Homo sapiens: one gene and its partners. The protein of the gene in region 4 interacts with the protein of the main gene of each other region in a pairwise test. Each region holds a gene or a part of one and is shown on either strand. Other genes may lie near its edges. The genes, in order: TCP10L, RUBCN, MYF5 and TCEANC.

Region 1 (8,793 bases), on a different chromosome or scaffold from region 4:
CTACACAGCTGTCCTAGAGGATGAACAGAAGGACACCAGGCTACTGAGCTGGCTCTGGAGTCACCCTGGGTTCAAATCCCAGCTCTACGTTCTCCAGCCCGTGGCCACGATGGGGTTAGTAATAGGATCCATTTCATAGGGTCGTCATAGAGAGTAAGACCGTAAAGCTCCGTACCTAGCCCATGTAAAGTCCACAGTAAGGGTTTGCTGCTGTTGTCCTGAGACATCATGAGATGTCTTAGAATTCTGGACTTGAGACACACGGCCTGGGGGCGGCAATGCTTCTGTCTGCTGGAGTGCCAGGTGAGAGGCCTGATGTATCCAGTTCTTATTAATCATTACTTACGGGAAATGGAGTTGATGGAAAGATAGCAACCCCTCCCACCACCCGGAGCGTGAGTGATACCGCGTCATTCAGCAATAAAGCCCACATCTTTATGGGGACGCTATTTTTACATAACGCAAACGGTACAAAAACATAAATGCGCTTTTGGTACCAGAGTGTGCGATTCTTGCCCCGCGTGTGGGGACGCTGCAGATTTCTTCCTGGCTTTCCACCGCTGCAGCTGCAGAGCTCTCAGCTTTTCTCGGAGCTCCATGTTCTGCTCCCTCAAAGCATCTATATGACTCCGGAGTTTTCCATGAACATCAGCCCACAGAGACTTCTGTCTCCCAAGCTCTTGGTGGAGTCTGATGATCTGCTGCTGTAATGGCTGTTATTGGGAAGAGAACACCAGAAAAACCTCTCAGATGTCACAATGGGCACATTTATCTGCAAAATACTCAAGCCCTCTCTGATGTAAGACCAACACTATTTCTGGAATAAAAGACACCCGATGAGATAAACAGGACTACCACAGCCTTTTTCTTTCTTCTTTCTTTCCTTTCTTTCTTTCTTTTCTTTTCTTTTTTCAGGGTCTCACTCAGTCACTCAGGCTGGAGTGCAGTGGCATGATCTCAGCTCACTGAAGCTTCAACTTGATGAGCTCAAGCGATCCTCCTGTCTCGACCTCCCAAATAGCTGGGACTACAGGCATGTGCCACCATACTTCGCTAATTTTTGTATTTTTACTCGGGATGGGGGTTCACCATGTTGCCCAGACTGGTCTCAAACTCCTGGGCTCAAGCAATCCACCTGCCTCGGCCTCCCAAAGTGCTGGGATTACAGGAATAAGCTACCATGCCTGGCCATAGCTTTATTCTTATTAAGTAGTGTTTATTATGAGTTAGTCCACATAATATAACCAGATAAAGATGGTTAGTGAATTATGATTTTTTTGTTAAAACACTACTACAGCAAAAAGAGGCTGGCATTCTTTTCCTTTTTTTTTTTTTTTTTTTTTTTTTTTTGAGACAGTGTCTTTCTCTGTCACCCAGGCTGGAGTGCAGTGGCGCAGTCTCAGCTCACTGCAACCTCCACTTCCCAGATTCAAGCAACTCTGGTGCCTCAGCATCCAGAGTAGTTGGGATTACAGGCACATGCCACCACACCTGGCTAATTTTTCTATTGTTAGTAGAGACAGGGTTTTACCATGTTGGCCAGACTGGTCTCAAAGGCTGTACTGGCATGGATATATGGTCAATAGTTTAAAAATTATGGAAGCCGGCCGGGCGCGGTGGCTCACGCCTGTAATCCCAGCACTTTGGGAGGCCGAGGCGGGCGGATCACGAGGTCAGGAGATCGAGACCATCCCGGCTAACACGGTGAAACCCCGTCTCTACTAAAAATACAAAAAATTAGCCGGGCGTAGTGGCGGGCGCCTGTAGTCCCAGCTACGTGGGAGGCTGAGGCAGGAGAATGGCGTGAACCCGGGAGGCGGAGCTTGCAGTGAGCCGAGATCCCGCCACTGCACTCCAGCCTGGGCGACAGAGCGAGACTCCGTCTCAAAAAAAAAAAAAAAAAAAAAAAAAAATTATGGAAGCCACTGCATTTTCAACCTAACATGTTAGCCTTCCCCTGGGATCCTTCACTGGATCGTAGAGCCTCCAGCCTTGCTCTGAGAATAAGTGGGATCGTGATAAAGGTACAGTCCTGCACTGGGTGGCCCTGGCCACAGGGACCCGTGGGACTTTAATGACAGCAAGCACTGTCCAACAGGGTCCAATGAGGAAGATGGTAAAAATCAGGAAACTTGCTGGGATGATGTGAGGCATGTCAACTTTCTGATTTTCTTTAATGAAGTTTTTAAAGTCTGGTGCCTTCTCCTGGATTAGAGGAGAAAAGCTGGAATGTTAATATTTTCTTTAACTCCCTGCCCTGCCTCCCATCCACCAAGAGATACGGTTGCAGAGGGGGAAAGAGCCACATGCCCCTTGGAGAGGAAGTACAGAATCAGTGTCCCGGGGTGGTGCATTCCTACAGGGGTCCAGCAAGGGAAAGTCCAATGACGGGCCTCAGGGACAGGAATCAGGGTCCCGCCTGGTGGGACTAACTCTGTCCCCACAGAGCTCAACTCACTGGCATCTCCCCAGTGTTGCAGTCCTCCGTGAGAACCTCGGCTGCCACAGCTGTCTTCTCCATGACAGCCCCAGCTCCTGGGCACGGGTCCTCTGGGTGGGTGCCCTCTTTGGGGTCCCTGGCCTCGAGTTGACCTGCCAGCATCCTGGTTGGGAAGGGAAGGGCTATGGGGACACTTGAATGCAGCCCTCCTACCCCGTCAGTGTGGGCTGAAGGCCCCAGCCCCAAACTAAGGGTGAGCAGGACCCGCAGCCGCTCCTTCTCCCCCTGGGTCATGTGCACATTCCCAGGCCCGAAGCTGACCAGGTGAAAGGACACCACAGACAGAGGGACTGAGCTGTCCACACCTGGCTCTCCACCATCCTCCGTGGAAAATGCTTTAGATCCTAGAAGATCAGCCTGACACCTAACACACTCCAGTCATCCAAAGAGGGGTGTGAGTGGGGTGTGAGCCGGTGTGAGTGGGATGTGAGTGGGTTGTGAGCAGGATATGAGCGGAATGTGAATGGATGTGAGCGGATGTGAGCACGATGGTCTTGGGGTATGAGCAGGTGTGAGTGGAATGGTCTCAGGGTGTGAGCAGGTGTGAGTGGAGGGTCGCATGAGACACCGAGGGAATTCTCAGCCCTTTAATCAGCACCCACCTGGAGGGGCACAGGCAGACCCTCCACCGTGTTGAGTATGTGTCTTGAACCATCAGGGTGACATTTGTGAATTCATGGTGAAGATGTGGAAAGGAAACACCTTTTTATAGGTACAGCATTTATGCCAGTTCTAGGAAGTTCACAGCAATTAGAGAACAAAAACGAAAGAGAAAAACGCAAAGCTTTCCTGCAAGCCTGCAGGGTCGTCTCTGAAAGCTGCCTCCACCCCTGCCTTGCCCTGTCCGTTTTAGGAAGCCAGTGGCCCCCAACGAAACCCCGACTGTTTAATTCATAAACTTCTAACTGTGTGAGAAGGAACAGTTTAACCACAGTGATCGGAGAAATGCTATTTAAAAGAGAGTCTCCTGATGGAAGCGAATCGAAGGTCTAGAGCAAGACCTACCAGTAACCAGATCACTGCCATTCCTTCCCCGCGGAGACTGGGAATGTTTCTGCGGAAGTGGGCTGGGGTCACGGTCCTCACAGCCCTGAGAAAGCTCCTTCTTTCCTGCTCCTCTGAGGGGACACCCCAGTGTCCTCGGCCCCAAACTCATGACCCCCTCAGTCCAGGGAAGACCCTTTCCTTCAGCCCCACCACCAGACCTCGTCACCTCACCTGGTCCCCAACAGTCACTACTGCCAGGATCAGATCATCTGGGCCATGTCCCCACAGTTGTCCCCAAGCCCTCCTGCCTCATATCCAGAGACCAGAGAGCAGCGGACAGTTCCAACGGACTTTCTGTCTTAAAGGGACATGAACGTCTCACTCAGCGTCACCACTGTACCAGCTCAGATAATAATTAAACATCCCCAAACCTGCAATTCTTAATATAGAAGCTCATCGTCAGTGGAGTCCATCCATCCACAAAGGACATTGGAGAGAGTCAAACTACTCCTCCAAATTGACAAAAACCATGTGTTTTATATCCAGTCTTCAATACGCAACGTGTAGTAAGAGCTCATTTCTCTGAGCATACATTCTTGGAGAAATACAAACTTTCTTCGGATATCAAATTATTTACTAGAAAAAACATTTTTATGAAGGGAAAATAATATATGTGAGTTTAAATAGGAGACAGGATTCAAAGTTTCATCATTTCACTAAATGCATCTCCATCTGAATTGTCCGTGTGATTTTTGTGATAGAGAAGAGAATGAGGAGCAAGCAAGAGTCGATATTCCTGTTAAACCCTGGCTGTCCTTCTCATCCATGGTGCTGCGTGTGGACAACATACACCTGGGGCTCACCTGAGCCTGCTTGGGACGTGTGTCACTTGGATAGTTCTGCAAGCGATTCGCATGCAATAGGCAGTAAATGCCGACGTCATGAATGAATGAAGAGAATACTACAAAGAGGAAACAGAAGGCACTTTTGTCCCCATGTGTCATTCTAACTGTGAGAGTGTGTGTGTGTGTCCTGAGGTGTGCGAGTGTGTGTGTGTGTGTCCTGAGGTGCGTGAGAGGTTGTATGTTTGTCCTGAAGTGTGTGAGAGTTTATATAGGTTTCTGAGGTATGTGAGGGGTTGTGTGTGTCCCTGAGGTGTATGAGGTGTGTGTGGGTCCTGAGGTGTGTGAGTGGTTGTGTGTGGGTCCCTGAGGTGTGTGAGAGGTTGTGTGTGGGTCCTAAGGTGTGTGAGTGGTTGTGTGTGGGTCCTAAGGTGTGTGAGAGGTTGTGTGTGGGTCCTAAGGTGTGTGAGTGGTTGTGTGTGGGTCCTAAGGTGTGTGAGAGGTTGTGTGAGTCCTGAGGTGTGTGAGAGGATTGTGTGTGAGTCCTGAGGTGTGTGAGGGGTTATGTATGGGCCCCTGAGGTGTGTGAGGGGTTTTATGTGTGTCCTGAGAAGTGTGATGAATTGTGTGGGTCCTGAGGTGTGTGAGGGTTTGTGTATGAGACCCTGAGGTGTGTCAACATTGTGTGTGAGACCCTGAGGTGTGTGAGGGGTTGTGTGTGGATTCCTGAGGTGTGTGAGGGCTTGTGTGTATGAGCCTGAGGTGTGTGGGTTCCTTATATGGGTTCCTGAGGTGTGTGAGGGGTTGTGTGTGTGTCCTGAGGTGTGTGAGGGGTTGTGCTTGGGTCCTGGGGTGTGTGAGTGGGTGTTTGTCCTGAGGTGTGTGAGAGGTTGTGTGTGTGTCCTGAGGTGTGTGAGAGTTTGCGTAGGTTCCTGAGGTATGTGAGGGGTTGTGTGTGTCCTGAGGTGTGTGAGAGGTTGTGTGAGTCCCTGGGGTGTGTGAGAGTTTGTGTAGGTTTCTGAGGTGTGTGAGAGTTTGTGTAGCTTCCTGAGGTGTGTGAGAGGTTGTGTGAGTCCCTGAGGTGCGTGAGGGGTTGTGTGTGTCCTGAAGTGTGTGAGAGGTTGTGTAGGTTTCAGGCTTTGCAGCTCCCCTCCTGAGCCTCAGCCGGGCGGCTCCCAGGGCAGGGTCCCCCCATCCCTGTCTCTGCTGCGGCTCTCTGTGTGTTGCTCTTCCCGGCCTGGCCAGGACATTTTCTTCATTGAGTCTTCCCCAGATTCTCACCCTGCAGCAACCACGTGCGGCAGCAGGTCAGGGCGGAGGCTCCTGGGCGTTTGGACTGTGGGGCCCTTCTCTTCTCTCTGATAAGGCCCCGGTTTTCTGTTCAGCCTCGCGGTGCCTTAGCCGCATTTCAGGCATGGTCTTCCAGGGCCCTCTGGTCTGAACATTCTGTAGAGGAAACCACGGCACACCTTTCACTCATCTTTTAAAATCAGAAGCCAGTTCCTGAGCTGGCTGCTTGGAGTAGCAGCAGATACACTTTTTAAAGTAGCTTATGTGTTTAAATTTCTGGTTCAAAGGACTACTTCTATAGTGGTACAGACCCTGACAAAAGAAATCACCTTTTCTAAATATCATCACTGCAAATGGGCAATATGACCTGGGAACTGGTGAGATGCCATTGAGATTGGAGCCCACCCCACCAGAGCTGAGTGAATTCTTGGATGACTAAATGTCGGAATAAGTTAGGGAGGGGTGCATGTCATCCAAAGAATGACATGAGCTCACTCTGTGCCTCAAGTGACACAGATCATAGTAGATTCCAGCGAAATACTTGCAGCTGTGTTGAGTTCCTCAAACTACCACAAAATTCTTATGGCAAAACTTGTGAGAGGTGAAGATAAGAGAGTGTGAGCCCTGTGATCGAATCCAAATATGAATTGTAAAATATGCCTTAATACTATTACCAGTAGCTGTAGTGTACAATGATAGAACCAAAAGATAAAGATTTTCGGCCGGGCATGGTGGCTCACGCCTGTAATCCCAGCACTTTGGGAGGCTGAGGTGGGCAGATCACAAGGTCAAGAGATCAAGACCATCCTGGCCAACATGGTGAAACCCTGTCTCTGCTAAAAATAAAAAAATAAAAAAAATTAGCTGGGTGTGGTGGCACGCGTCTGTAGTCCCAGCTACTTGGGAGGCTGAGGCAGGAGAATTGGTTGAACCTGGGAGGTGGAGGCTGCAGTGAGCCAAGATGGCACCACTGCACTCCAGTCTGGCGGCAGAGTGAGACTCCATCTCAAAAAAAAACAAAACAGATAAAGATTTTCTACTCATTTTCTAGTTGTCCCGTCAGTGGTGCATTTCAGCACACTCAAAACTCCATGTTTCTTTTGGATTTTATGAGCTGAGTCTGAATGTTATAAGTGACACACTCCTTTTTTTTTTTTTCTTCTTCTTGTGAGACAAGGTTTTGCTCTGTTGCCTAGGCTGGAGTGCAGTGGCACCATCTCGGTTCACTGCAACCTTGACCTCTTAGGCTCAAGCAATCCTCCCACCTCAGCCTCCCTAGTAGCTAGAACTACAGGTTCACACCACCACACCCAGCTAATTTTTGAATTTTTGGTAGAGACAGGTCTCGCTATATTGCACTGGCTGGTCTCGAACTTCTGGACTCAAGTGATCCACCTGTCTCAACCTCTTAAAGTGCTGGGATTACACACTCTTTAAAAATGTTCTCTGTACAATATTTCGTAAAGGTTGAGAATAAGGAAAGACATTGCCCCTTTAAGCAAAGTGGTAAGGCAACATATAAAAACGACTCAATCCACAATAGTGAGAATTTCCGTTAATTACATTCTAAAGTTTTTTTGTTTAAAATGAATTGAGGGAGTACAGTATGCTCTTCAAGATAATGAACAGAGAAAAATGCCCAATGACTGCTAGCCATCCCAATAATGTATTTACTCTACGTTGTGTTATTTTGTTTCTGCAGTAGGACCCAACTGATTAGAAAGGAAATTACATAGTCAGTGACCAGCTGAGACTGAGTACGGACAGAGGAAGAAGCTAACTTACATCTAAAGAGACCTGAAGTCAGGAGACATTTCTAGATAAACCCCTCAGCCAGATAACATCAACCCATGACTTCCAATACCATTGCTGAAGAGGTCACAGAGGAGAGAGAATCCTGAGAAGATTTTTAAAATCTGAAAGTTCTTGTATTAAAAGAAGTGGGAAGTTTCTTGGTATGTGTATGAAGCCTAAGATTGAGATAGTGGTACTGAGGGTGGCATGATACCCCATTGAGGCTGGGAGTTTTATTTCTTTTAAGTCTTTCTGTAGGTATACCTCTGTGGGTTCCTGCCACTTCTAAACCATAGTTATAAGGCCAATAAATACATAAAACAATCTTCCTACTGCTCGCAGGCACCATGCTCTTCCTAATAGCTCTATAAGAACCCTTTATTGCTCGTGACCCTGTGTCCACATTATGCTATCTGATTATTCATAATTTTTCTCGGATCTGCTTGATATGAAACATGGATACAGCCATATTTGAAGGAACATGTTACAGGAAAAGAAACCCCGACCTCGGAATCTGAGGATTTGTATAATTTGGACTTTACACAAAATAATTATGTAATTTTGGGCAAGTCCCTTAATACAGTATTTGAACTCAATTTTATTGCCCCTTTTAGGTCTAAACTCTCAGCTGTGAGTACTAATTTGTGGCGTGATGGTGAGGTGAAATGGCAGAGGCCCATGGCACATCATTGCAGAATATGCGTTAGACTTTCACAAGTCATCAGTCATGAATTTCAGGATCTGGCTGCTTGTCTTCATGGGAGACGTCAGGTACAGCTTGCAATTAGCTAAGGGGTTCATCTTACAATACCTCTAATTACTGCTTTAGCTAAAAGCCCCCATGAAAGACACAAGTTTACCACATCATATGAACCCATGGTAAATATTTTGTGACCTGATACTTATCCAGTCAGTGCTCTGTTAGCCAGAACTAAATAGTTGCCAGAAAAATGAAAACTAATATTCATAATACTGGTCTTGAAATACTACAAAATCATGGGACAAAATCAGCTAGTCGGGAGACTGGAGTGGGAGGATCACTTGAGCCCAGGAGGCAGAGGCCGCAGTGAGCTGAGATTGTGGCACTGGACTCCAGCCTGGGTGAGTGAGTGAGACAATGTCTGAAAAAGAAGGAAAAAGAAATAAAGAAAGAAAGAAAGAGAAAGAAGAAAGAAAGAAAGAAAGAGAGAGGTAGGGAGGGAGAGAGGGAGGAAGGAAGGAGAAAGAGAAAGAAAAAGAAAGAAAGAGGAAAGAAAGAGAGAGAGAGAAAGAAGGAAAGAAGGAAGGAAAGAAGGGAGGGAGGGAGGGAGGGGAGAGGTTTGAAGAGGCTCACTCTGCCTGAAGACAGGAAGGGACCAGGAGCCGAGGCGCTCTCAGCCC
Region 2 (9,002 bases), on a different chromosome or scaffold from region 4:
ACGTTTCATTATATCAACTACTTAAGGAAAATACACTGAAAAGTTTCATCCTTCATTTTTAAAATGACACTACCGGCTGGGCACAGTGGCTCATGCTTGTAATCCCAGTGCTCTGGGAGGCCAAGGCAGCAAGATCCCTTGAGGCCAGGAGTTTGAGACTGGCCTAGGCAACATGGTGAGACTCTGTCACTACAAAAAATCTGAAAAAATTAAAAATTAGCTGGGAGTGGTGGCACACACCTGTAGTCCTAGCTACTGAGGAGGCTGAGGTGGGAAGATCACCTGAGCCCAGGAGTTTGAGGCTGCAGTGAGCTACGATTGCACTATTGTACTCCAGCCTGAGTGACACAGTGAGACCCTATCTTTAAAATATATAAATAAATAAATAAAAATGATGCTATCTCATCAAGAAGACTGTTTCTGAACTGGGTATTTCATTGGCCATAGAAAGGTTATGTTTGCAGTAACCCAGTCACAAAGCCTCAATTAATAGGCACAAGGAATGTGTATTTACCAGTTGTGTATCTGGAGCTAAGGAGGCCATCAGTACCATGAAGCCTCATTAAACAACGCATTCTGAATTAATCAGCCGCCAACACAGTATGCCTATAACAATGACGGGAGTGACTTTGTGAGGATAACCCCACTACTAAAATTAAGTTTTGATTAAAGTTTTTTGGTTAAGAGGCAATCATAAAAAGAATAAAAGACGGGAAAAGATTCTGCAAAGGAGCTATCCTACTGGCCTGAATGACAGGCACAGAATGCTGTGAAATTTATTCACTATCTTATACTTCCGTTGTTACTATTAGCATAGTGAGAGGCAGCATAGGGTGAGTATTAAAAGTACAGACTCGGGCCGGGCACGGTGGTTCACGCTTGTAATCCCAGCACTTTGGGAGGCGGAGGCTGGTAGATCCTCTGAGGTCAGGAGTTTGAGACCAGCCTGGCCAACATGGCGAAACCCCGTCTCTACTAAAAATACAAAAAATTAGCTGGGCGTGGTGGCGGGCACCTGTAATCCCAGCTACTTGGGAGGCTGAGGCAGGAGAATTGTTTGAACCTGGGAGGCAGAGGTTGTAGTGAAGCAAGACGGTGCCACTGCACTCCAGCCTTGGCGACAGAGCAAGACTCTATCTCAAAAAAAAAAAAAAAAAAGTGCAGTCTCTTGGGCCGGCATGGTCGCTCATGCCTGTAACCTCAGCACTTTTGAGAGGCCGAGGCTGGAGAATATCTTGAGCCCAGGAGTTTGAGACCAGCCTAGGCAACATAGTGAGACCCTGTCTAAAAAAAGAAAAAAAAAAAAAAGCGCAGACTCTGGTGCCGAACTGCCTGGGTTTGAATCCAGTTCTGCCAGGGATTCGCTGTACAACCTTGGCAAGTTACTTACCCTGTCCATTTCTCAGCTTTCTCATCTGTGACACAGCAATAACAGTAGTACCGACCACATACAATAGTTATAGGGATTAAAGAAGTTAACGCAGTATTCATATCTTAATACCTTAAAACAATTCCTGGCATGTGGTAAATAGCATTTGTTACATACATTAAAAAAATAACTAACCCAGCCTCCCTCACATGAAGTGGTAGAGGGAAATCAAAACAATCCTAAAACGTGTTTAGAATTTACATGGGACCTTTCACACGAAGCACGTCACAGACATCTGCAGGAAGAATAAATAGTCAAATAGGCAAAGCAGAAACTGAAACATGGAAAAGGGAAGTAAGATGTTCAGTTTCACTTAGCACAAATCATTCTCAGATCTCAGGCAGGAGCCCCAAAGTCCTGTCAGTCCAGGTTTTGTTCAACAGGCCACTTTGCACATAAAAGTAGAGTCACCCTTAAAAATAGCAAGTCTTCACCCAGGAACATCTCATAAATCTTCCCTTGTTGATATTTTCTCAGAGGTAAATATTCTGCTTCTAGTTTTTGGATCCCAGCTGCTCCTGAGACCATCATTATATCTGAAACTGTTTCTAAATGTCAAGTGAGGTCAGGCCTGGTGGCTCACACCTGTTAATTCCAGCACTTTGGGAGGCCGACGTGGCGGGGGAGAATTGCTTGAGCCCAGGAGTTAGAGACCAGCCTGGGCAATATGGTGAGACCCTGTCTCTACAAAAAAGTTTTTTAAAGTAGCCAGATGTGGTAGCTGGCACCTATATCCCCAGCTACTTGGGAAGCTGAGCTAGTATAATCGCTTGAGCCCAAGAGTTGGAGGCTGCAGTGAGCCGTGTTCACGGCACTGCGCTCAGCCTGGGGGACAGGGTGAGGCTGTGTCTCAAAAAATAAAATAAAAATAAAATAATAAATGTCAAGTATGACTCCCTTAAGCCACATTCCTGCTCTCGCCTGTCAGCATTCCAGCCTCTTTAAAAAAGATTAAGACCAGAGTTATTAATGAAGCAAACCCTAAATATGGAAGGCATCTCTACAGACTCCGATTCATCATTTAGTCAAAGTAGTTCGGGGTTTCTTTGGCTTTTTGTTTTTTGAAGACAGGGTCTTCCTCTGTCACCCAGGCTGGAGTGTAGTGGTGCGATCTCGGCTCAATGCAGCCTCGACTTATTGGACTCAAGTGATCCTCTCGCCTCAGCCTCCCGAGTAGCTGGCACCACAGGTGAGCACCACCACGCCGAGCTAATTTTTGTATTTTTGTAGAGACGGGGATCTCCCTAGGTTACCCAGGCTGGTCTCAAACTCCTGGACTCAAGCGACCCGCCTCAGCCTCCCCCAAGGTGCTGGAATTACAGGTGTGAGGCACCGCACCCGGTCCAAAGTAGTTTTTATATTTTAAATCCCCCAATTTCTAGAAGATATGAGCTTTCTGACATGGTTCCATATAAATAAATGTGAACTTGCTTAGTTTGCATTGTGAGGAAAAAGGGACAGGTTTGAAGACGAAAAGGAAATGGCACAGAGGTCCTGCCACTCTCTGACAGGGATTCGGCAATGACAAAGTGCAGAGTTTCTGGTCTCATTAGCAGTCCCCGCCCCACCGCACTGCCATGACACTCGCTCACTTTCTCCCCAGGCTCTCCTCGCCTTCATCCCCATGCTCATCTCTGCCTAAGCTTCTTCCGAGGCCACTCATAACGCTTCACCTCTGCTCCCAGGAATTCTCACATCCTCTTCGCGTTGGCCCCACTTGCTGTCACGGCAAGTTTCAGTCCGGGTGGTGCCCTGCCCCTGTCTATAGACTCTGGCCTGTAAAACCTCACTGCACCCCTCTGGCCTCTTCGCCCAGTCTCTCAGCTGCCACCTCCTCTCCAGCAGTCTTGGATCTGAGCTTCACCCTCCTCTGCTGCCCTTGCCCTCCGCAAATCCCACCCACCCTCCTCACCCTAAGCCGGTTCCTTCGTCCCATCCCCGCCCCGCCCGTCCTTCCTCTGCGAAATGCTTCCCAAACAAGTCCTCCGCAGCCGTCGTCCTCAAGACTCGTCGCGCCCGGCCCTTCTCTCCGTGACCCCGCGCCCTCCCAAGCCTCCCGGGGCTCCGGCGCCTGTCGCTGCCCCGACTCCGCGGCGGCTCCCAGCCCACCTGCTCTCCTCAGGCAGGCGCTCCTCGCCGCCTCCGAGCTCCATTCCCGCGCCCTCCGGCCGCATCCGGGGCGGTGAGGCCGCCTCTTCGCCCAAGAGAGGCGTCCCTGCCGCTTCGCCCTTCAGGGCTCCCGGGGCCCCCTGGGGCCGGAGGAGGCACCTGCGGCCGGTGGGCTCCGGGTGATGCGCTACACCCGGGCGGCGACAGCGGGAGGGACCGCCGCCTGGGCTGCGGCTTCTATCCCGGCCACCCCCACTTCCGGCTCCGGGGACTACAGCCCCCGGCGAGCACTCCGAGGCTAGGCCGCTCCCGCAGGACGCGTCCTCCAATCCCAGGCCGCGCTCGCAGACCGCGCCCCTCCAACGGCAGGCCGCTCCCGCAAGCCGCGCCCTCCAATCCCAGGCCGCTCCCGCAGGCCGCGCCCTCCAATCCCAGGCCGCGCTCGTGGATTACTACGCACCCGGTGGTTGGCTGGGCCGGCTTGCAAGCGGCGGGGGACCTTGGTCTCAGGAATCCGTGCCGGGGCGTATCCTTATTCACCCCCGTGACATTACACGCTGGGGACCGAACTCAGTCCGAGATGTAGACTAGGCAATAACGCTAATCTAATCCCGGTACGATTAACCCCACTCAGCCCGCCCTGGCTTAATGTCCGCTGGTGGTGTTTGGAGACCTCGAGCATTTAAATGAAGCGCTCACAAACAAGAGCACAGGTTGCTTTGGGATCATAAAAGAGCAGGAGAGAAAGGCTTCTGGGGGCTCTCGGAAGATGGATGTCAACGCAGAGTTTTCAAGGCTGAGTACGGGTTAGCCAGGAGAAAGAAGAGAAGGTGGAGAGAGCAACACGGCAGATACAAGGAAGGAAGTGCTGGCTTGGGAACTGCAGGTGCTGGGTAGCCAGAGCTGGGAAGGAGTGAGCAGCAGCATGGTGTGGGCATTCTGGTGTGGGGAAACCAGATCATGAAATGCCATTTTAAGGAGTTTGGATTTTATCCTGAAAACAATCAGCAAATCAAGCATATGCAAATCAAGAAGTGATTTGATCGAATCTGATGAGAAAGCCACTTTTGACAATGTGGACAGGAGATGGGGCAGATATAATACTATATTGAGGTAACGGTGGAAGGCTAGATAGGAGACTGGTCATCCTTATGGGGGATAACCAAGTAATGCTAAGAAGTGAAGCGAACCAGTTGAAAGAAACGTGGGCCTAGGGTTGCCAGATACTCTGGTTTCTCTTTTTTCTTTTTCAAAGACGGGGTCTCTCTCTGTCGCCCAGGCTGGGGTGCAGTGGCGCAATCATAGCTCCCTGCAGCCTGGAACTCCTGGGCTCAAGCAGTCCTCCTTCCTCAGCCTCCTGAATAGCTGGGACTACAGGTGCGAGCCACCACACCTAGCTATGATATTTTGATTTTTTAAAAGAAGCTAGGATCTGCATTTTTAAGCACTACTTCCAAATTTTTAAACGTTGGCAACAAATTTTTTAAACTTTCAACTTTGCACAGGCCAAACACAGCTTGTCTGTAGGCTGAAGGTGGCCCTTGAGTTGCTAGTTTGCAAACCCAGGCTTAAACTACAGCAGCGGTTGAAGAGAACAAGGAGGCTCAGATTACAGCAATGTGAAGGCAACAGAATCAGCACTACTCTATAAAGGACTGACTGTGGCAAGTGAGGGAGAAAGAGCGATCAAGAATAACTCCGTGAAAAACTAATGACTCTATATTAAAATAATATATGGCTTTTAGGTATTTTCAAACTTGACAAAAGTGTTTTGGCAATTAAAAATGAAATGAAAGAGCCTCTTGAAGCCATTTATGATTTCATTTAGGTTAAAAAAATACTCTCTTTCAAACTTTCTCATTTTCCTACTAAACGATTATACTTCTTTAAGAAAGGGGCAATATTACTCATTGGGATTTCTCTTCCTTCTGTGACTTTCTTCTCTTTTGGAGACGCAGTCTTGCTCTGTCACCCAGGCTGGGGTGCAGTAGCGCTGCCACAGTTCACTGCAGCCTCAACCTCCTCAAGCGGATCCTCTCACCTCAGCTTCCCAAGTAGCTGGGACCACAGGCAGTGCCACTATGCCCAGCTAATTTGTTTTTTTTTTTTTAATTTTTGGTAGAGACAGGGTCTCACTGTGCTGCCTAAGCTGGTCTCAAATTCCTGGGCTCAAGCAGTCCTCCTGCCTCAGTCACCCAAAAAGTATTGGGATTACAGGCATGAGGCACCATACCTGGCCTTACTTCTAGTTCTATAAATGTATGAACTTTATTTTTTGGCATACAGTATAATCCCAAATTAACACTATATTATTTATTTATTTATTTTTGAGACAGAGTTTCACTCTTGTTGGCTAGACTGGAGTGCAATGGCGCGATCGGGTTCAAGCGATTCTCCTGCCTCAGCCTCCTGAGCAGCTGGGATTACAGGCATCCGCCACCACGCCCGGCTAATTTTGTATTTTTTAGTAGGGACAAGGTTTCTCCATGTTGGTCAGGCCGGTCTTGAACTCCCGACCTCAGGTGATCCGCCGGCTTCGGCCTCCCAAAGTGCTGGGATTACAGGCGTACTAAAAAATACAAAAAAATTAGCCGGGCATGGTGGCAGACGCCTGTAATCCCAGCTACTCAGGAGGCTGAGGCAGGAGAATGGCTTGAACCCAGGAGGCAGGGCTTGCAGTGAGCCGAGATCGTGCTACTGCACTCCAGCCTGGGCGATAAGAGCAAGACTTCGTCTGAAAAAAGAAAAAAAAAAAAAGGCCGGGCGTGGTGGCTCATGCCTGTAATCCCAGCACTTTGGGAGGTCAAGGCGGGCAGATCACGAGGTCAGGAGATGGAGACTATCCTGGCTGACACGGTGAAACCCCGTCTCTACTAAAAATACAACAAAAAATTAGCCGGGCGTGGTGGCGGGCGCCTGTAGTCCCAGCTACTCCGGAGGCTGAGGCAGGAGAATGGCGTGATGAACCCGGGAGGCGGAGCTTGCAGTGAGCAGAGATCACGCCACTGCACTCCAGCCTGGAAGACAGAGCTAGACCTGGGCGACAGAGGGAGACTCCGTTTCAAAAAAAAAGGCAATCAGCTTTATCAGGAAATCCTAGGGGCCAGAAGCGGTGGCTCACGCCTGTAATCTCAACACTGGGAGGCCCAGGCAGGCGGGTCACTTGACACCAGGAGTTCGAAACCAGCCTGGCCAACATAGTGAAACTCTGTCTCTACTAAAAATACAAAGAAAAAATAGTCGGGTGTAGTGGCACACGCCTGTAATCCCAGCTACTTGGGTGGCTGAGGCATGAGAATCGTTTGAACCCGTGAGGTAGAGGTTGCAGTGAGCTGAGATTGTACCACTGCACTCCACCCTGGGTGACAGAGTGAGACTGTCTTGGGGAGAAAAAAAAGAAATCCAAAAACTAAAATTGTAGCAAAAAGGCTGGAAAACAGGCTTTTTCTCATATGTCCAAGTTCAAGTTACATGTACTGGATTTTCTTTAAAGCCATTAATAAACATGACAATAATCTGCACTAGCCATGCGTTACCTATCCCATCCCTCTACTTTCCCTCATAATCCTGAACCCCTTCTTTTGTTTTTTTTTCTTTTGAGATGGAGTCTCGCTCTGTCACTCAGGCTGGATCATGGATCCACTGAAAATACAAAATACAAAAAATTAGCTGGGAATGGTGGCAGACGCCTGTAATCCCAGCTACTCGGGAGGCTGAGCCAGGAGAATCTCTTTAACCTGGGAGGCGGAGGTTGCAGTGAGCTGAGGTCATGCCATTGCACTCCATCCTGGGCAACAAGGCAAGACTCCATCTTAAAAAAAAAGAAAAAGAAAAAGAAATTTTGTAGTATAATTGGCAAAATTTGAACATGAACCATAATTGGATAATAGTACAGCATCAATGTTAAATTTTCTAAACTTGGTAATTTTAGCATGGTTATGTTAAGGAATATCCCTAGAAATATATTCTCTTTCTTTTTTTTTTGAGACAGAGTCTTGCTGTGTTGCCCAGGCTGGAGTGCAGTGGCACAATCTCAGCTCACTGCAACCTGTGCCTCCTGGGTTCAAGCAATTCTCCTGCCTCAGCCTCCCGAGTAGCTGGGATTACAGGTGCCCAACACCACGCCCAGTTAGTTTTTATATTTTTAGTAGAGACGGGGTTTCATCATGTTGGCCAGGCTGGTCTCGAACTTCTGACCTCAAGTGACCTGCCCACCTCAGCCTCCCAAAGTGCTGGGATTACACGTGTGAGCCACTGCACACAGCCCTTAGAAATAGATTCTAAAGAGTCATAATTCCTGCAACTTTCTCTCAAATTGTCTAACAACAACTAATACCTCTATACAGAGAGAAAGCAAATGTGGCAAAACATTAATTGGCGAAGTAGAGGATATATGGGTATTCATTGCACTATTTTTGCAACTTTTCTCTACATTTGCAAGTTTAAAAAATAGTCAAGGTTCTGCTTTCATGGGGACCTAAAAAAATAGTCAATGATCTTAGTATGGTTTTGTTTTCTTATGACTGTATCCTGCTAAATATAACAAAAATTTTAGTGTTTCACATGGAAATTTTTAATCTTGTAATGATTAACTTTAAAGACAGTTTAAAATTAATTTATGTTTTCCCCATAGGTAGCATTTCTAAAAGTCTTTTAAGCCAATTTTGCCAAATGACCAATTCACTGACTTTACCAAATTTACTGATTTACCAAAATTCTTTTTCTGTTAGGCATATATAAAGCTTATAGTAGTTCATCTGATGAGATGATTTTAAAAGCTTTTGAAGAATTTTGCCAAGTTTTAATTACTTAGCTTTTATTCTGTCTTTATAGCAACATTTCCATCCCCTCTAAGCACTTAGTAGTGGTTCATTTATTCAATTATATAGGAACTGGCTGGGCACAGTGGCTCATGCCTGTAATCCCAGCACCTTGGGAGGCCGAGGTGGGAGGATCACTTGAGGTCAGGAGTTCAAGAACAGCCTGGCTAACATGGTGAAATCCTGTCTCTACTAAAAATTCGCCAGGCATGGTGGTGGGCGCCTGTAATCCCAGCTACCTGGGAGGCTGAGGCAGGAGAATCCCTTGAACCCAGGAGGTGGACATTGCAGTGAGCTGAGATCGCACCACTGCACTCCAGAGATTGCACCACTGCAACAGAGCAAGACTCCATCTCAAAAAAAAAAAACCCCAAAAAACTATATAGGAACACTTGCCAGCCACGAACGGTGGATAAAAATGTGTGCTTTTTCTTTTTTTTTGAGACGGAGTCTCGCTTTGTCACCCAGGCTGGAGTGCAGTGGCGCAATCTTGGCTCACTGCAACCTCTGCCTCCCAGGTTCAAGCGATTCTCCTGCCTCAGCCTCCTGAGTAGCTAAAATTACGGGCGCCCGCTGCCGCCTGGCTAATTTTTTGTATTTTTAGTAGAGACGGGGTTTCACTGTGTTAGCCAGGATGGTTTCGA
Region 3 (9,514 bases), on a different chromosome or scaffold from region 4:
AGCCCTTATACCTCCCTTATGGAATGATTCCCATTCCTTTAAGCTTCATGACTGCATAAGCATGAGCAAATCACACCAGAGAGAAAGAGAAACCTTCCTGAGAACAGTAGCATTGCCAAGCTCTAGTAAAGAGTCTGTATGCTTTTTTTAAATTAATGTATGTAACCACAAATCCTTAGGAATTTTAAATCAATGTACATATAAGAGGATTAAACAATTATCAATATTTGTTCTCTGTGAATAGCTACTTTAGATACTTTAAGAATCTCTTTTTAAAATCTCTCTCAATGGTAAACTTGTGATAATTATCCCAATCATTGTCTCAACCTAATTTTCCACTTAATTGTTCAATTTTTTCATATCAGTTCTTTCTAGAGGAGATTTAGGGTGATGAATATGAGACAAGTCTGTTTTACATACACACATGCACACACACGCATACATGATATGATTAATACAATAAAGTTTAAAAGGCTGTAAAAAGAAGGAAGAAAACTCAAGTCTGTCTCACTTCAGTATAATTTGTGTAAGTTTTCTTATGTTGGCACTCTAGCAATATAAAAAAAATCAGCCCAATACCTTTAAATATTTTATTGACAATATTAGTATATATTATCAAGATATTTTCAGGCAGGTAGTAAAAGTAAATATGATTTAACTCATGCCTTCTGTTGTACTATAGTTATTAAAATGATGTGATGTTGTATAGTCTTTTTTAAAAAAGCATGTGTTACTGTCCTGAATAACCTCTATCTTCCCTTCACACACAAACGACTTGATAGTATATGGTACAGTTCTAAGATAAAGGAAAAGTTTCATTTAGCAGGTTCACTTGAAATATATTTAAAATGAAAATATGACATTTTCACTTGTGACATCAACAGGACCTAAACTGGGTACATGAGAATGGTAAATATTCAGACTTATCTGAAAAGCCAACTGTTTAAGTATTTTCAGCTCACATGTAAAGATTTCATGTCAATGAACAGTAATTCCATTGGGGTGTTATTTTAAAAGATCATGAGCCAAAATATTTCTTGTAGTAAAAAATTTTATTTATGGTGGAATTTCCAAAATTTCTTATATCTTGAAATGATCCACAAAGTACTATTTTGTGCTTACATTTAAAAGATACATTTCTTACAAGAAAAGATCAAAATATATACATTAGGCAGTATTATATTTTTATTTAATACAATATAACTAAAGGATTAAAGAGAAAAGAAATAGTTAAATATATTTAAAATTCCATTTAACTGATTCTCAGCTGTTTTAATGTTTTAAAGAAAAAAATAAAGCTCTAAACACCAGAGACATTTTGATGAGCAATATTTATAATATATATATATGTATATATAAGTTAAGCATTGCAACAAGCTACCCTCAATCAATGGCCCCCTATCAGAAATAGTATTACTGGAACTATGTATTAATATCTAAGCAAAGAATAATAAAGAAGAAGAAAGTATTATTTGCAATGATGACTTTTTAGTTAAATACACTTTCTTATAAAGTGGCAAGGTAATCTTTACAAATTTACAACTGAAAAGAAATCTTTATGTACATGTTGTCTTGGTTTGGGACTTTTTGAAGCCTTCTTCTTCCTGTGTATTAGGCCCTCCTGGAAGAAGTCATATAGACCAGAAAATTAGTTCATAGCACATGATAGATAAGCCTGGAACTAGAAGCCCCTGGAGTTGCAGGCTGTGAATCGGTGCTGGCAACTGGAGAGAGAGAAGCCAGATCCTGGAGAGGCAACCCAGGTTGCTCTGAGGAGGTGATCCGGTCCACTATGTTGGATAAGCAATCCAAGCTGGATAAGGAGTTTTTATCTGTGGCATATACTAAGGATACAAGGAGAAAAGCATTAAAAAATAATTAGCCCAAGATAGACAGATTTGCTTATGTTGCTCCTTAAATTGTAGGTCAGCTCCTCTGACACCCAGAGGTCAGGTGGTCACAGAAAGCCTAACATAGAAATTTGCAACAAATATCTGGCAATTCCTGAGGGGTAGACGTGGGGAGTGGGGAAGCCCCCTGATAATATTTCAAGCAACATTGTGTGTGCATGTGTGTATGCATGTGTGCGTGCGTGTCTGCTAGGGGGATTTGGAGCAGAAGATGTGTTTATTTTGCTTTACCAAAGCCTCCCTATAAGAACCATCACTTCCATTCTCCCTTCCCCAATACTATCAGCAAGAACAGAATCTTATAGGCTGAATTGTTAGGTTGAACTGGTCTTTAAACTCCTGTGAAGTTATCAATTCTTACCATTTGATACATCAGGACAGTAGATGCTGTCAAAAGTACTGCTCTTTCTGGACCAGACAGGACTGTTACATTCGGGCTATAATACAAGACACACAACAAAGTTTGTTTTCAGGTCTTGGCAAAAGATGTTCTGACCAAAGGTGAGGCTGTGCTTGCCCACCAGCTCTGTAACCGAACACTGTCAATCACCTTCACTGCCTTGATTTAGGAAGGGCTAGCCCTCTCCAAATTCCCAGGGCACTGAGGTCAATCTCTGTGCTTGAAGAAGAGGAGAGCAGCAGCAAAGGGAAGAGGGGGTGGAATTCAGCAGCAATGTGCATTGGGTTAACCATGCAAAATGGATTGGAGTAGAAGAAAGCCACACTAATTCAGGGAAAGAACACTTTCCCAGGGCAAAAACACATTAAAACCTGGCAGCCTTGGAGCAAACGCCCTCTAAAAAGAATGCATCAACATCTTTCAGCCAGGCCTCATTGGAGCAGGAACTGGGGCCGTGTGGGTATTTCTTTCCATTTCCTCATTAAGTTAGAAACGGTGCCTTTAGATATTAGCGTAGGGCATGATCCACAGATGGCATATTTTGAAAATAAATTCAGGAATGGAGAAAACATCTGAGTGATCATTCACAGCCACCCATCTTCCATGTCAACACTCGATTACAGTGTACACCTAGAACCTGCTAGAAAGTTAAACTAAAATCTTGTTCAGCAGCGGTTTGGGGAGTCTTTCTAAATGTGGACCCCTCTCTTCTTTTAAAGCAACTCAGCATCTGCCTCCACCCCACTCTCCCCACCACACCAGGTTAAATGAGGTGTAAGGACTTTAGAAAAGATTAGGGTAGCCTAGCAGGTACCAGATCTATTGCTTACCATGCCATCAGAGCAGTTGGAGGTGGGGCTGGTGGGCTCCGAGCAGCTCTGTCCCGGCAGGCTATAGTAGTTCTCCACCTGCTCTCTCAGCAACTCCTGCAGGCTCTCGATGTAGCGGATGGCATTCCTGAGGATCTCCACCTTGGGCAGCCTCTGGTTGGGGTTGGTCGTGGTACACCTCTTGAGGGTTTCGAAAGCCTGGTTGACCTTCTTCAGGCGCCTCCGCTCGCGCATAGTGGCTGCCTTCCGCCGATCCATGGTGGTGGACTTCCTCTTGCAGGCTTTGCAGGCCCACATGAGGCAGTGACCAGCCTGGTGGTGGCCGGTAGGCGCTCGCACGTGCTCGTCCTCATCTGAGCCCTGCAGCTCTGCTTTGTGCGCTCCGAAGGCAGCCACTCGCGGCACAAACTCGTCCCCAAATTCACCCTCGGGGGACGGTATGCAGGAGCCGTCGTAGAAGTACTCAGAAGGTGAGAACTGGCAGCCATCCATCACGTCCATCCTGCTGAGAGGCAGGCGGTGCACCTGGACGGCAGCGAGAGGGATGGGGAGAAACGGGAGCCTGGCGCCTCCGCCGATGGGCAAATCCCGGGCGGAGCTCCCTAGTCTGTCGCTCCGGTAATTAACAAGGGCAGACGCCTGTTGGCCTGGGTAGACAAGCTGGGGTTGGGGTTCTTTATATATTCTTTCGGGAGGGAGGCCGGCCCCAGTGGCCAGGCACTATTAGCATATCCCACCGCAACCCCCGCGGGGGCTGTCTGGACAAACCTCCGCCTTTCCTCTACAGACAATCTGCTGTGTACTGCCCCTTTTGACGCTAATGGTTTTACTGTATTTCTGCTGGGGCGGCAGTGGGTCCCCAACCTGCTCATTTGCACTCTCTAGATAGGCTAAAACAAGGGATCACTTAAGGAGTGTTTCACACAAAAGTGACCAAGGCAGTCCAACTTTTTGCAATTGGACACACATTTTAAAATAGTGGTAATAAATAGAAATCCCTTTCAGCTGGCACCAAGAGCCGACCTGCCCTCCCAATCCTGGGCGTGAGGAATCACCTGATTTGGGGGTGTTTGTTTCTCTTTTTCATGAACTTCAATTATCTCGAAAACTTTTTCCAGCAATTGGATTGAATAACGGTTACTAAAAACTTGAAGTGGCATTTTCAATCTTGGAGTGAATACAGGGTTTGCCTTTCCAAATCTATTTTGTATAGCTTCAGATGAGTAAAGTTTTGCTCAGATTGTCATTTATTCTAGGCTCTACCTTATTGAGAGTAGGGAGGGAGGTTCCTTTTCCCATGACTGGGCTTGCTCTGAGTTCTCCCTGTATGTCTGCTCATCTAAAAGGAGGTGGGGCACAGGAGGGCCAGGTGACCAGGAACATTCCTCCCGTTCTTGCTTCCTTCATTTTCCCCTTCTGTACGTATTTGTTGAGCACCTTCTCCTTTGTGCCAGGCCTTCCCTAGATCCTGAGCAGGCCAAAGACCTGCACTGAAAGTGTCTCTAAGATTTCCAACAGAAGAAGCCCAGTTTTCGACGGCAAACTCCCTTTCCAGGGGTGAGTCTCCTTTCTCCCTCTCTTTCTGCTCCGCCCTGTCATTTCTACAGACTAAACAGCCAAGCTGGGCTTTGGGGTTGCTAATTTTCTGCTTTCAGGCAAACTAACACCGTTACAGATGCGTCCCAGCTGCCGCCACTGCAATCCTTGACTCGTGTAAAATTTCCAACTCCTCAAACCAGGAGTAACTTCACACACTTCAGTGACAAAAGCCTTCCAGAAAAGCAATCACAGCAGGGTCTTTAGAACTTCGATGGATAGAAGGCAAGAGGGGAGGGTTGTCATTTAAGTGGGAATGAATCTATTAATCAGCTTTTACCAATCCTCCTCCAACCTTAATCCACTTTCAGGTTATTTGGGTTGGGGAGGTGCTGTTTATATTTAGGAAAAGCAATTACTTAAGGTCTACACAATTAGTCTTGGGGTTTTGGACTAGGTCTTGTGGCCCCGTTGAAAGAAGCAGGAGTGTTCTCAACTCAATCTAGGGTAACCCAGTTCAATAAATATAGTGGCTCCGAAGTTATTGCGAGGAGGAGGGAGTTTTCCTTCCTATTATTATTATTATTTCTTTCAGTGAATGGTACTTTGTACTTTTTTTTCAGAATTATTTTCTTAAAGCAACACTGGTTCATTGATCCAGCATCTTCAGGGGCCAGAGAAGTAGCAACCTTTTCAGGGTGCGATCTCTCTAAAGTGAAGACCTTGAAAACCAGAGGTGGGAGAGTGACACTGTCAGTCACTAAGGTTTGCTAGCCACACCATTGCTGTCTCCTCTCTTCTGTCCTGTCATCTCTAAGAAAAAGATCTCTCCTGAAAATCAGGTTCCCTCTCACACCAATGGGCTGCTTAATCATCTGACCAGTGGGAAATCCATCTGCACCTTTTTTAGGGCTATTAACAAGTCTATGCCTTTGAAATGAATACGGTATCCAGGGCTACGCCAGATAAAAAGAGGCAAGTTCAAGAAGAACCCAGGTGGAAACTAAGATGCCATCCACGCTGGTGGAAACATTCAAATGCACAGCAAATGCAAAGCACATTGCTACCTCTGAAATACAATAGTGGGTAGATATCCTCCCCCAGGAATTCTCAGCCAAGTCCCACAGTTTCTATTAGCAGCCATATGACCACTTTTTTATTTTTTTGGCTGTGGAGTCCACAAATTAGCTCGGACTTGTGCTTTGGACACAAATAAACTTGGTCTTTAAAGTTTGAGTGAAAGTTAGAGGTTACGCTTCTGCTCATCTTTCAGCTAATTTCTGAAAGCACTTAACGTGATTTGTACTCAAGCCCCTCAGCGCGAAATATTTTTAACTAACAATTATTGAGAATTTTCTATTTGCCCCGCACTGTTCTCAACCCTTTCCTTAGATTAACTTAACAATTAATACTCCAAACCACCCTGTGGGAGCTATTATTGGGCCCATTGTAGAAAGAAAGTAAACTCGAGCTCCAGGGACTAGGTTATTTGCCCCAAGGTCATACAGGATTGGAAACTAGGCATCCTGTCATTATAGTTCCTACTCCTAGAGGTGATTTTGTTTGTTTTCTTCTTCAATTAATTTAGGCTCCGTGCGCTTCCTTAGGGCTCCAGAGCAGAAACTCGCAAAAGCTGGCTACTCAACATCTTTCCCTGGCTCCTGTGCCTGGGAAGACGCCGTCACTCAGGAGCCTCTGTCAGTAAGGGTAGTTCTCAGAGGTTAGAGCTGTCTCTGGTAAGGTGATCTCAAAACAAAGTTACCAGAGTGCCGCGAGCGAGTGGAACTAAAGAAGCCGAGAAAACACAAGCGCCCGGCGGCTTAATGGGACTTGCTAGCAGGAGAACAGGGTCCGGACTTGAGAGCCCTTGGGACGCAAGTGCTGAAAATAGGATCTCAGAGTACCAAAGTAAAAAGAAATAAGACAAAACTTTTAAAACGCTGTCAGGGGCGAGAGAAGAAAGAGAGAGAGAGAGAGAGAGAAAAAAAAAAGGCAATATGCTAAGACAGTAGGCAGCCAGCACCACAAAGATGGCTACAGTGTCCCAATTCAGGAGCGGTCTCCCTGCTCTTTTCCCAGGGGAGACCTGGAAGGGGAAAAAGAAAGAACTGGGTGAGCAACATAGAGAAAAGCATTTTTTTTTTTTGAGTGGGTTGGCCAGGGAAGCATGGGAAAAGTTTTAAAAATGGCTCTGAAAAGATCTACTCAGGGCACCCTTTTGTACTCAAAGTCGGATTAGATTGGCTTTTGCTCCTCACACAAAGAATGAAAATAAGTTTTCCACTATTTCTGCAAAGAAGTGGATTTCTTGCTTGCGGAGAAAACGCACATTTATTTCATATGTAAACAGGTTATTAGAAATGACACTCCAACACTGTCTGCTAGGAAAGTCTAACCATAGGTAGTTGAGGGGAAGAAAACCCAGTCACCTCTGGTGCTATAAATGGATACCCACTAAGGCTCTGGTGAAGTATTTATTTATTTATTTATTTCATTTTATATTCTGAAAAAATAAATACATTTGATTTTCTTACAATTTAGAATTATAACCAGGTTCTAACTGCAATGACCTTTACGTAACATCAACTTTTTTTTTAAGTGAAATCTGTGTTAGTTTAAGCATTATGGCAACACACTAATATTGATGGACAGATCACACCAGCAAAATGATGCTCATACCTTCTTCTTCTAATAAATTTTGCCCACCCTAGGCTTTCTGCATTATTGAAAATTCTCTATGCTTTTCTTGGAGGGAGAAACCAAATACATATAGAAGGATACATACATTCCAATTCACTTCTGCCCCTGCCTGCAGATCCTTATCAACTCCTGGACTAAGGGAGTTGTTCTTGATATTTTTTATATTATAGATGACTTCACAATGTGCTCAACAATTGCAAATTGCTATTAGCTCTGGGAATCAGGCACACCTAAGTAAACACATTAGTACCTGCCAGAGCTGCTGGAAGAATTTGTGAAGACAGCTGAGGAAGACATTGGCCTCTGCTTGAATTAGAGGACTTCCAGGAGAGATCAAAGGCCTAAGTAAGGACATTTAGCAGCCTTGAGAGTACAGAAAGTAGCCAGTTCTTACAGCATTATCTTTGTTCCAGCACATGGCATAGCCATTCCATCTCAGACTGACTCTGAACTAGGCTTGCAAAAAAATTGCTTTTTTCAGAGTGAAACCTCTATGATGGAGGATCATCTTTTATAAGTGTAATAGTTTAAGGGAGTGACTGGAGGGGCCTGTCAGAGAAATAGCTTGGTGGTTTGGCTCTTTGAGAAAATACTATGTTATTGATAATTTATCAATGCATTGGATTAGGCAATTAGATATTCAAAGCTTAAAAAAAATGTCAAAAAAAATTCCAGCTATGGTGTTGTGGGAGAGCGATTTTGAAACGACAAAATGGGATAAAATATTACTAGAAGAAAAACACAACTGGGTAAATTCTAACTTTAGTAAAAAAAAAAAAAGTCTTAATAAGGATAGAGATCACTTTCAGCATCTCAAGATTTCTCTGCTAGTTTCAGAAATAGTTGCAAACCCTAAATTCCAGCATTCCCTCCACTCCCAAAACAAATGCAAGAGTTTGAGGAAAAATAAATGAGACTGTTAGACCTAAGAGGATTTCCAGTGTTCAGGCTTGGAATTCAGTGATCCAGGTATTAAAATTAGTATGAAAGCTGGCATTTGATTTTCTGCAAATTATTTCTGTAGTAATATAATAAAGAAAATCACTCATTATTTTGTACTTGATAACTTTATACCTGCCTCTGGAAAGAGGCTTGAATTTAATCCCAAATTGCTTATCTTTACCAAGTTATTATGTCTTGATTATCTGCTTCCACAGCCCTGTTTATTTTGGCTTTGGCCTCAGTAAAGATTATCATCATTAATATCAAACAAAAACATTTTAATTGCAAACACACCAAGGATTTCACTGGAAAGCCTAACATGTCATCTGTAGCAGTGGAGGTCACATGAAGTCTTTGGGAAATATTTGCTCTATTTAATGAAGAGACTTCTATAGGCAAACTTATTCCAAACAATTTCTCAAGTTACCCAGCTAAGAGAGATAGAGAGGATTTGGCTTGCAAAGACTGAATAAAATCCATCAACAAGTAAAGTCCACGAATTAATAAAAGCATTCTGCTGTTGAGCCATTTATAACACAGATCTTACTATAAGTATAGGCTAAATTATAAATTAAATGAGTTCACCTAATCAGTTACATTATTTTGTGTTGCATAATAAATTTGAATTTTAAAAATAGAAGTGTGCATATATACAATTTGGGGAAAATCCCTATTGATTCTCAGGGAGAAAATGATGGGCATCTAATAAGCATAATTAATGGGCATAGACACTACCCAGACATATTCACACATGTTTTGGTTGGATAATTTGAAATGCTTTACCACTTATTTTTTTAAGTTACTGCTCTAATTTGGAGTTCGGTAGCTAGCCACTCTTGAGAGAGAGCTTTTAGAAAACAAACGCCAAGGAGAGCCAAATTTTTCCCCAGACCATAAAATGTTGCTTATTAATTTCCCAAGGCAAGCTGGGCTCAGTGGTATGGGCCTGTAGTCCCAGCTACCTGAAAGGCTGAGGCTGGAGGATCACTTGAATCCAGGAGTTCAAGCCTGGGCAACAGGGACACATCACCCCTTAAAAAGAAAAAAAAAAGGAGGAAAGAAAGAAATTAACAATGTGCCAAGGCATCTGTTTCACAGAGCATGATGGTTAAGAACACAGGCTTGAATCCACTGATAATTGCCTGGCTCTGAATCCTGGCTCTATGCAGTACTTAACCAAGTGCAGGAAACTCTGT
Region 4 (2,769 bases):
CCTTTATTCAAAGAACATCAAAAAATATAAAACTTGCATCAGAAGCAAAGTTGCCAATTTGAAGAACCCCAGAAATTCTCATTTACAACAAAACTTGCTCTCTGGGACCACGTCTCCACGAGAATTTGCTGAAATGACTGTCATGGAGATGGCAAATAAGGAACTGAAGCAGTTGAGAGCCTCCTACACGGAATCTTGTATCCAGGAACATTACCTTCCCCAAGTAATTGATGGCACACAGACAAATAAAATAAAATGCAGACGCTGTGAGAAATACAATTGCAAAGTCACTGTAATTGACAGAGGAACACTTTTCCTTCCCAGCTGGGTGCGGAATTCAAACCCAGATGAACAAATGATGACTTACGTAATTTGTAACGAATGTGGGGAGCAGTGGTACCATAGCAAGTGGGTGTGCTGGTAACTGTAAATCAGTGTTCTCTTAACAGATAACCGGAGTGATACCTTTTATTTGTACAACCCTTTTGTGCTTTTAAAAATCTTATACACACTACTCTCTAAAACAGAAAAAGGAGGAAAGAAAGTCGTTAGCTGAAGCTGCCACCACCATCCCTAAAAGTTACAGTTTGGGGAGAGGGAGTGGATGACTATTTATATTGTGCCTTGTGGCCATTTAGTACCTTACTGTAGACAGAGTGTGGGTGAGAACAGCCCAGCATAAACTGGGAGACTGTGGGAAATGCATTCCCAGGCCTCACACCATTGAATCCGAATCTGCATTTTGACAGGATCCCCAGGTAATCTTCCAGGATAGGATAGTTTGAGAAGTGCTACTTTAGCAATAGGCCTGTGGCTCTCAGCAGTGGCTGCATATTAAAATCATCTGGGAAGCTTTGAAAACCCACTGGTGCTGAGACCCCACCCTAGAACAATTCAGTTGGAACCTATGAGATGGGACCCAGGCATCAACATTTCTTTTTTCATTCCTCAAGTTATTTTAAGATGCAGTCAGAGTTGAGAACTACTCAGAAATAGGCTCTCATTTGATCCTTTTTACAGCTCTAAGACAAGAATGTTATTCCAGGCACTTCACGAATGAGGAAACAGGTCCACAGAGGTGTGGTGACATGTCCAAGTGACACAACCATAAATAGTACCAATTCTGACAGATCCCAGATTTTCTCCCTCCTGACTCACTGAGACTGGCTCAATATCGACTTCTGAGAAATGTATTCCTGGAGGTCGGGGACAAAATGAAGAATGTGTTTAAACTCCAACATTGGGTGACTAGATCTTCATTCTTTTCCCCTCTCTTTTCTCATTTATAGGTCTCCCTTCAACCACAAAAGTCACCCTGGAACTCATCCCGCAGTTAGAATTTTGTTTGGAGCCCTCTTGCTTAGTTGAAGGAGTTTCGTAGTTGTTTTTTGTTTTTGTTTTTGTTTTTGTTTTTTCCCCCTGTGAACAGGTTTTTCGGGGGTATGTAAACTCTAGGATGTTTAGTTTCTGATGTCAGGAGTCTTCATGTTCTCAAGGACAAGTGTCCTTGAGATGGACATTAATGGTCATTAGTCTGTCAGAGGAAGCCCATCACTTTAGCCTTTGAATGTAGTAACAGACGTTTATCTAATAAATGAATTGAAGATAAAATTACCTCTTTGAGGCCTTTGCAAACAGTGTTTAACCAGTTTATATAATTGTTTGACTACAACACGCCTTCTATGTGATTATGGCTGATTTTTTTTCCTTAAAAAACTCATGGAATGTTCACCGTTTTATAGTTTTAAAAAGTTTACTTTGGCGGTCTCTACAAACCTACCATTTCACTTTCTCACCAGTTCTTTTCTCCTAACTCTCTTCCTTTGTTGGAGCTCTGAAGGCCTAACTGTGTGTACACTTTACCTGCCTGACAGAATTCTCCAAAACATGCATAAAAGTAAAATATGTTCGTATTTTCAAATAATTTGGAAGAGTCGGCTCAATGCCATCAAGTGTAAAATCTATTTTGATATACTTGCTCTCCGTGTCTTCCCAGGGCTGCTTTTTGTGATGCAACATGTTTAGTCCTTAACTTGCAAGGTCATCTAAAACTTGAAGTTTCACAAAGTGTGGTTTCATATGACTTGGAATAATCTGAAAAACTATTCAGTGGTTACGAAAGAGCACAGCACATAAAAACCAAATTTGATTAGTTCAAGTCGGTGTTTATGTTTTGCTTTGGGGGTTTGTGTGTATGTGTGTAGTTTTTATTTATATTGGAATTTGGCAAACTAAATGTTCAGACAAATAAAAGTAATTAAAATGGAAATTTCCTTACTCTCCAAAATATAAAAACCTTCATGGTCTGGCCGGGTGCGGTGGCTCATGCTTGTAATCCCAGCATTTTGGGAGGCCGAGGCGGGCGGATTGCCTGAGGTCAGGAGTTCAAGACCAGCCTGGCCAATATGGTGAAACCCCGTCTCTACTAAAAATACAAAAATTAGCTGTGCATGATGGCGGGTGCCTGTAATCCCAGCTACTCGGGAGGCTGAGGCCGGAGAATCACTTGAACCCAGAAGGCAGAGGTTGCGGTGAGCCAAGATCACGCCATTGCATTCCAGCCTGGGCAACGAGAGAAACTCCACCTCAAGCAAACAAACAAAAAAACCAATCTGCGTGGTCTTCCTCATTTCATTTCATCTTTATTCGTGAGTTTTGCAACTTGAGATAGGAAAATAGTAATCTGTGTGTTTTTCTTTTGGTTAATGAGACAGCATTACATTTTCTGCCTATAGGTAATTCTTTCAGATCCTATGTCCTTTCCCCTAA

The links.
Region 1: the proteins of TCEANC (region 4) and TCP10L interact in binary tests that used the Homo sapiens proteins (3 or more experiments, as listed by UniProt).
Region 2: the proteins of TCEANC (region 4) and RUBCN interact in binary tests that used the Homo sapiens proteins (3 or more experiments, as listed by UniProt).
Region 3: the proteins of TCEANC (region 4) and MYF5 interact in binary tests that used the Homo sapiens proteins (3 or more experiments, as listed by UniProt).

What each region holds. Positions count from the first base shown.
Region 1 is NC_000021.9:32,581,703-32,590,495, forward strand, and holds the start of TCP10L (T-complex protein 10A homolog 1), read right to left. Parts: upstream 3,822-8,793; 5' UTR 3,719-3,821; intron 2,604-3,718; 5' UTR 2,603-2,603; coding exon 2,459-2,602; intron 714-2,458; coding exon 498-713; intron 1-497. Other genes in the region: CFAP298-TCP10L (uncharacterized protein LOC110091775), read right to left, coding at 498-713. UniProt on the Homo sapiens protein: May be involved in transcriptional regulation. Has in vitro transcription inhibition activity. Acts as a tumor suppressor in hepatocellular carcinoma (HCC) cells.
Region 2 is NC_000003.12:197,733,117-197,742,118, forward strand, and holds the start of RUBCN (run domain Beclin-1-interacting and cysteine-rich domain-containing protein), read right to left. Parts: upstream 3,789-9,002; 5' UTR 3,604-3,788; coding exon 3,539-3,603; intron 1-3,538.
Region 3 is NC_000012.12:80,711,191-80,720,704, reverse strand, and holds MYF5 (myogenic factor 5), read right to left. Parts: upstream 3,794-9,514; 5' UTR 3,642-3,793; coding exon 3,141-3,641; intron 2,348-3,140; coding exon 2,272-2,347; intron 1,845-2,271; coding exon 1,654-1,844; 3' UTR 1,034-1,653; downstream 1-1,033.
Region 4 is NC_000023.11:13,663,141-13,665,909, forward strand, and holds the end of TCEANC (transcription elongation factor A N-terminal and central domain-containing protein), read left to right. Parts: coding exon 1-424; 3' UTR 425-2,269; downstream 2,270-2,769.